Linked DNA regions of Homo sapiens. The protein of the gene in region 1 purifies or fractionates together with the protein of each later gene. This does not show direct contact. Each region holds a gene or a part of one and is shown in the gene's direction. Other genes may lie near its edges.

Evidence for each region.
Region 2: the proteins of PMCH (region 1) and SERPINC1 purify together in Homo sapiens (affinity purification with mass spectrometry; one large-scale study listed by BioGRID and IntAct). This does not show direct contact.

What each region holds. Positions count from the first base shown.
Region 1 is NC_000012.12:102,195,959-102,198,973, reverse strand, and holds PMCH (pro-MCH preproprotein), read left to right. Parts: upstream 1-1,140; 5' UTR 1,141-1,203; coding exon 1,204-1,452; intron 1,453-1,453; exon of another isoform or gene 1,454-1,802; coding exon 1,803-2,001; coding exon of another isoform or gene 2,002-2,009; exon of another isoform or gene 2,010-2,272; coding exon 2,273-2,322; 3' UTR 2,323-2,515; downstream 2,516-3,015. Other genes in the region: PARPBP (PCNA-interacting partner), read right to left, coding at 2,683-3,015. UniProt on the Homo sapiens protein: MCH may act as a neurotransmitter or neuromodulator in a broad array of neuronal functions directed toward the regulation of goal-directed behavior, such as food intake, and general arousal. May also have a role in spermatocyte differentiation.
Region 2 is NC_000001.11:173,907,328-173,910,827, reverse strand, and holds part of SERPINC1 (antithrombin-III isoform 1 precursor), read left to right. Parts: coding exon 1-74; coding exon of another isoform or gene 75-197; intron 198-885; coding exon 886-1,276; intron 1,277-3,313; coding exon 3,314-3,378; intron 3,379-3,500. UniProt on the Homo sapiens protein: Most important serine protease inhibitor in plasma that regulates the blood coagulation cascade. AT-III inhibits thrombin, matriptase-3/TMPRSS7, as well as factors IXa, Xa and XIa. Its inhibitory activity is greatly enhanced in the presence of heparin.

The sequences.
Region 1 (3,015 bases):
TAACTAACAATTAATATCCAGAATATATAAAGAACTCCCATAAATAAATTAGAAAAAGACAACCCAATAGAAAAATGGACAAAGCCAAAAAAGAAAAAAAAAAAAAGCATTTAACATAAGAGGAAACATAAATGGCTCAGAAACATATGGGAAGACACTTAACCTCTTTGGTAATTAGGAAAATACAAATTAAAAGGACAATGAGACACAAGAGTCAGCTAGGACATGGAACAATGGAAATTCTCATACCCTGCTTATCGAGGGCACAAATCGCTTACAACTATGTTGGAAAACATTTTGGCATTAGTAAAGCTGAACATATACATACTCCATGATCCAGTAATTCCATACTGAGAAATATACTCTAGAAAAATTCTTACATATATGTACCAGAAGACATATAAAAGAATGTATTATCTTATTCATTGGGGTCAAAATTAGAAATTAACTCTGAAATGTTTAATTAAAAGTCATACAACATAAACTCATCATCCAAAAGTAATGTTTATGGGCACATAAATATTCTTTTCATGGACTAATTCATTAATTTCTAAATTCATTAATAAATATTTGTACATATTATCCTTTTGTAAATGCAGAGATAAAATACACCTGACAGGTCAATTTTTGATATAGCATGAATGGCTTTTTGTTCACACTGACAGGCATATGTACTTTAATCACCAAAAACTATATCAAGTATTTATAAAAGAAAGTCTCTTTTGAGGATTATTTCAGTTTAATCAGGATTAAAAGGAAATAAAACTTTATCCTTATCATCCTTGAGTGAAATAACTTGAGTTTTAATATCTTTACTTAATCAGAAAATACACAAAAGGAAACAATAATATAGAGAGAGCCTGATGTCCTGTGGTCTTCCTTAATAACAACCCATTTTCAAGAGACTATAATCTACTCAACAGAAAGCATTCTACCAAGGATCTTAGTCAGATTCTGAGAAAATTCACACTCAAAATAAACAATGTGTCACTAAAACCAAAACAATGTAGGTATTAGCAGCTGCATAAAGGTTAGCCTCAATCTAATGAGTCATTTCTAAAATGATGAAAAGTATAATTCTTTGAAGTGCTTTCTATTCAAGCTAGAAAATATATAAAGATACAGAATCGTTTACCAAGCAGGCTGACAGAGAAATTTTTCATTTTCTTTCTTGTTTGACTGTATGCAAACATCAAACTAAGAATGGCAAAAATGAATCTCTCTTCCTATATATTAATACTAACTTTTTCTTTGTTTTCTCAAGGTATTTTACTTTCAGCATCCAAGTCCATAAGAAATTTAGATGATGACATGGTATTTAATACATTCAGGTTGGGGAAAGGCTTTCAGAAGGAAGACACTGCAGAAAAATCAGTTATTGCTCCTTCCCTGGAACAATATAAAAATGATGAGAGCAGTTTCATGAACGAAGAGGAAAATAAAGTTTCAAAGGTAAGTGGCAATGTGACTTGTCGTTTATTTCAATGAAAATTTAAATGATTCTTACAAATCCTCTGAAAAGTAAAACTGATACTTTTATAAACAGAAGTATATGCAAACAGTCACAATATGCATTAGGACGACTGACGATATTTCTTACATGCCAGGTAGTTCTTCCATCCCAGCAAACACCTCTTATCTGAAAGTGTTTTTTCTCCTATAAATTTGCATCTAAGGTATTTTTAAAAAGTCAAAAACAGTGCAGAGTAACTTTGAATTGATCAACAAGAATATTATACAATTGTATTATAGTTCCACTCCGAATACGATAGCTAAAAACCAAATCAACCTTCTCTTTACAGAACACAGGCTCCAAACATAATTTCTTAAATCATGGTCTGCCACTGAATCTGGCTATAAAACCTTATCTTGCACTAAAAGGATCTGTAGCTTTCCCAGCTGAGAATGGAGTTCAGAATACTGAATCAACACAAGAAAAGAGAGAAATTGGGGATGAAGAAAACTCAGCTAAATTTCCTATAGGAAGGAGAGATTTTGACAGTGAGTAGTCTTTTCAAAATTCAATTCTTACATCCTACCACCATTAAACAGAACTCTGAGTTAAAGTGAATTTGGATGCAATCATAACAAAATCAAATAAGACCATGGCTCAATTACACCTGCCAAAAATGTGGGATTAAATAGCAACAATTAATTATTATCATTTTGGTTTACTCAGAATTAGTTATACTAGATCCATTCTTTTTTTCTTAATAAATTTTGTGTGATAATTATAGTCCTTTAAACAATTTAAACTTTCTTCTTCCTTCAGTGCTCAGATGTATGCTGGGAAGAGTCTACCGACCTTGTTGGCAAGTCTGATACCTGTTGGTCCACATCATCTTTTCAGAAGAAAATAAAAGCATTTAATTGCCAATGGGAGGAGAAGCCCATACTGCTACTATAACTTGTGTATGTTAAATGTCTGTTTTAAAAGAAAGTAGTGTTAAGATGTATCAGTAACTGAAATGATATGCTTTCTCTGTGCATTAAACTTTGTGAAAATTCTGCATAATTATGACTTACTAGTATTTTTAAACAATGCTTAACATACTAACCTTACATACACTGTAGACCAAAATAATAAATCATCATAATTTACACCTTGATCTCTTAAAAATTAAGCATGTCTTTGGTGAATGGTTTATAGATACATAAACCTAAAGCATATAAGACACAAATTTATAGTCTAAAAAACTGAGTTAACTTTGCCTGGCCAGAAATCAACTTGTCCTTGGCAGTACATTTATTACTTTTTGCTACTTTAGCTAGTTTGCCGTACAATCTATTCTGTGAATCATTTGATTTCTTAGGTATTTTAGCATTTTTATGTTGAGGTGGTTCATTTCTATTATCACAGAGAATATTTTCACCATCCAAATCCACCTGTTTCCTTTTTGAGCTTTTATTTCCTGTCTGACTGGTTGATTTTCTTGATACTTTTTCATTTTTACTTCTGTCCAGATGAACATTTCCAAAACTCGTTCCAATTGTTGATCTTCCAACAGATGGATT
Region 2 (3,500 bases), on another chromosome or scaffold:
TCACCGATGTCATTCCCTCGGAAGCCATCAATGAGCTCACTGTTCTGGTGCTGGTTAACACCATTTACTTCAAGGTACTCAGAATGGCCCTGGAGAGACCCCAGGGACTTCCTCTTGCTCTTCAGCTTACCCCCTTTTTTTTTAAATGGCGAGACCGAAGCCCTGAGAGGGCAAATGGACTGCCGAAAGCTACACAGGTACAGGTCAGCAGGGCAGGTCAATCTATTATTTATTTATTTATTTATTTTTGACAGAGTCTCGCTCTGTCGCCCAGGCTGGAGTGCAGTGGCGTGATCTCGGCTCACTGCAAGCTTCGCCTCCTGGGTTCACGGCATTCTCCTGCCTCAGCCTCCCAAGTAGCTGGGAATACAGGCACCCACCACCATGCCTGGCTAATTTTTTGGTTTTTTTTTAGTAAAGACGGGGTTTCACCGTGTTAGCCAGGATAGTCTTGATCTCCTGACCTCGTGATCTGCCCACCTCGGCCTCCCAAAGTGCTGGGATTACAGGCATGAGCCACCGCGCCCGGCAGATTGGCTTCTTTCACCTAGTAAAATGCATTTACTGTTCCTTTGTGTTTTCGTGGCTTTGTCACTCATTTCTTCTTAGCATGGAATAGCATTACATTTGGTCTGGATGTACCACAGTCTGTCTATTCATCTACTGAAGGACATTTTGGCTGCTTCCAAGGTTTGACAGTTATGAATAAACCTACTCATAATTCCATCATTCTGACACAGCCATTGTTAACCTTTTTGTGCATATCCCGCCAGTCTTTTTTCCGAATAATTATATATTAATGTAACACTATAATATGGATATGTCTTGTGTCAATAACTATCCTCCTATGAATGTTTGTGTTCTTACTTTGTGATTCTCTTCCAGGGCCTGTGGAAGTCAAAGTTCAGCCCTGAGAACACAAGGAAGGAACTGTTCTACAAGGCTGATGGAGAGTCGTGTTCAGCATCTATGATGTACCAGGAAGGCAAGTTCCGTTATCGGCGCGTGGCTGAAGGCACCCAGGTGCTTGAGTTGCCCTTCAAAGGTGATGACATCACCATGGTCCTCATCTTGCCCAAGCCTGAGAAGAGCCTGGCCAAGGTAGAGAAGGAACTCACCCCAGAGGTGCTGCAAGAGTGGCTGGATGAATTGGAGGAGATGATGCTGGTGGTCCACATGCCCCGCTTCCGCATTGAGGACGGCTTCAGTTTGAAGGAGCAGCTGCAAGACATGGGCCTTGTCGATCTGTTCAGCCCTGAAAAGTCCAAACTCCCAGGTTTGTCTAGGAAGGAGTTTCCTCCCTTCTCCACCCGCAAGGTAGTCTGACCAAAAGTGGAAGAGTTGGAGAAAGAATAGAAAGGAGCAACAAGTCAGGACTCCTGGATACTGATCCTAGTTTCTACTGCTAATTTGTGGAAATCTCTTTTCCTTTTGAGACCTCAGTTTCCTCTTCTGTAAAAGGGAAGTTTGTTCTTGGATCTCCATGGGCCCAGCTAGCACTGGTGCCCTGTGAGTCTGTATCAGGTAGAGGAGATGGGACCAGGTGGAGAGGAATTTGAAAGGGCATTGGAATTCAGAGCAAAGAGACAGATATTAAGAGCTGGGGAAATGTGGTTCCCATTACACAGGCCTCACTGACATTTATTATTATTATTATTATTACTTGAGACAGAGTCTTACTCTGTTGCCCAGGCTGGAGTGCAGCGGTGCGATCTCGGCTCACTGCAACCTCTGCCTCCCGGGTTCAAGCGATTCTCATGCCTCAGCCTCCTGAGTAGCTGGGATTACAGGCACACGTCACCATACCTGGTAATTTCTGTATTCTTAGTAGAGATGGGTTTCACCATGTTGGCCAGGATGGTCTTGAACTCTTGACCTTGTGATCCGCCTGCCTTGGCTTCCCAAAGTGCTGGGATTACAGGCGTCAGCCACCGCACCTGGCACATTAAAATATCTTTTAAAGAAGTTGGCTGGCCAGGGTGGCTCACGCCTGTAATACCAGCACTTTGGGAGGCTGAGGTGGGAGGATCGTCTAAGCCCATGAGTTCGAGACCAGCCTGGACAACATAGTGAGATGGTCTCTACAAAAAATAAAAAAAATTAGCCAGGCATGGTGACGCACACCTGTAGTCCTAGCTTCTTGGGAGGCAGAGCTGGGAGGATTGCCTGAGTCCGGGAGGTCAACGCTGTGGTGTACTGTGATCACACCACTGCACTCCAGCCTGAGCAACAGAGTGAGGTCCTATCACTAAATAAATAAATAAATAATAAAATAAGTTTACGATGTTAAGTAATTAGATTTATCTTTATTGACCTTTTTTTTTTTTTTTTTTTTTTGAGACGAAGTCTTGCTCTTGTCCCCCAGGCTGGAGTGCAGTGGTGCAATCTTGGCTCACTGCAACCTCCACCCCCCAGATTCAAGTGATTCTCCTGCCTCAGCCTCCCAAGGAGCTAGGATTACAGGCGCCTGCCACCACGCCCGGCTAATTTTTGCATTTTTAGTAGAAACGGGGTTTCACTATGTTGGCCAGGCTGGTCTTGAACTCCTGACCTCAGGCGATCTACCTGCCTTGGCCTCCCAAAGTGCTGGGATTACAGGCGTGAGCCACTGTGCTATTGGGCTGTCTTTAAGCTAGTTTTGAAAACTAAAAATGTTGCCAGACTGGAAAGAAAGATGTTCCTTCTGGATGGAGTGAGTTTTTTCTGTAAGAACAGAGTCTTGCCGTTTCTCTCTCCCACAAAAAGCTGAAGCCTGAGAATGAATTATCAGGAGCCATGCTGAACAAGCCCAAAGTACTTTTATTATTATTATTATTATTATTATTATTATTATTATTATTATTTTTGAGATGCAGTTTTGCTCTTGTTGCCCAGGCTGGAGTGCAGTGGCGTGATCTTGGCTCACTGCAACCTCCACCTCCCGAGTTCAAGCGATTCTCCTGCCTCAGTCTTCCAAGTAGCTGGGATTACAGGCATGCGCCACCACACCTGGCTAATTTTTGTATTTTCACGATAGAGACAAGGTTTCACCATATTAGTTAGAGTGTCTCCAACTCCTGACCTCAGGTGATCTGTACACCTTGGCCTCCCGAAGTGCTGGGATTACAGGTGTGAGCCACTGCACCCAGCCCCCAAAGTACTTTATTATTTTTAACACATATTCATTGTGAGAGTATGATTAGGTGAAGATTTAGGATTTCTTCTTATGTTTCAAAAAGCCCCAAAGGATCTCTTAATCCAAACTGAATTCCCATCTGTGGGTTGAAGCCAACTTTCTCCCATCTCACAAAGACTTCTCCGGTCTTCCTTCCAGGTATTGTTGCAGAAGGCCGAGATGACCTCTATGTCTCAGATGCATTCCATAAGGCATTTCTTGAGGTGAGTACACCTTCCCCACTCTCTTAGGGTACAGAAAGGAGATGCATGAACAGCAGGAACACGTGGAAAAGGCCTGTTTCCAGTGTTAAGGCATGCAAAAGGCCTCCACAGGCCTGCTATAA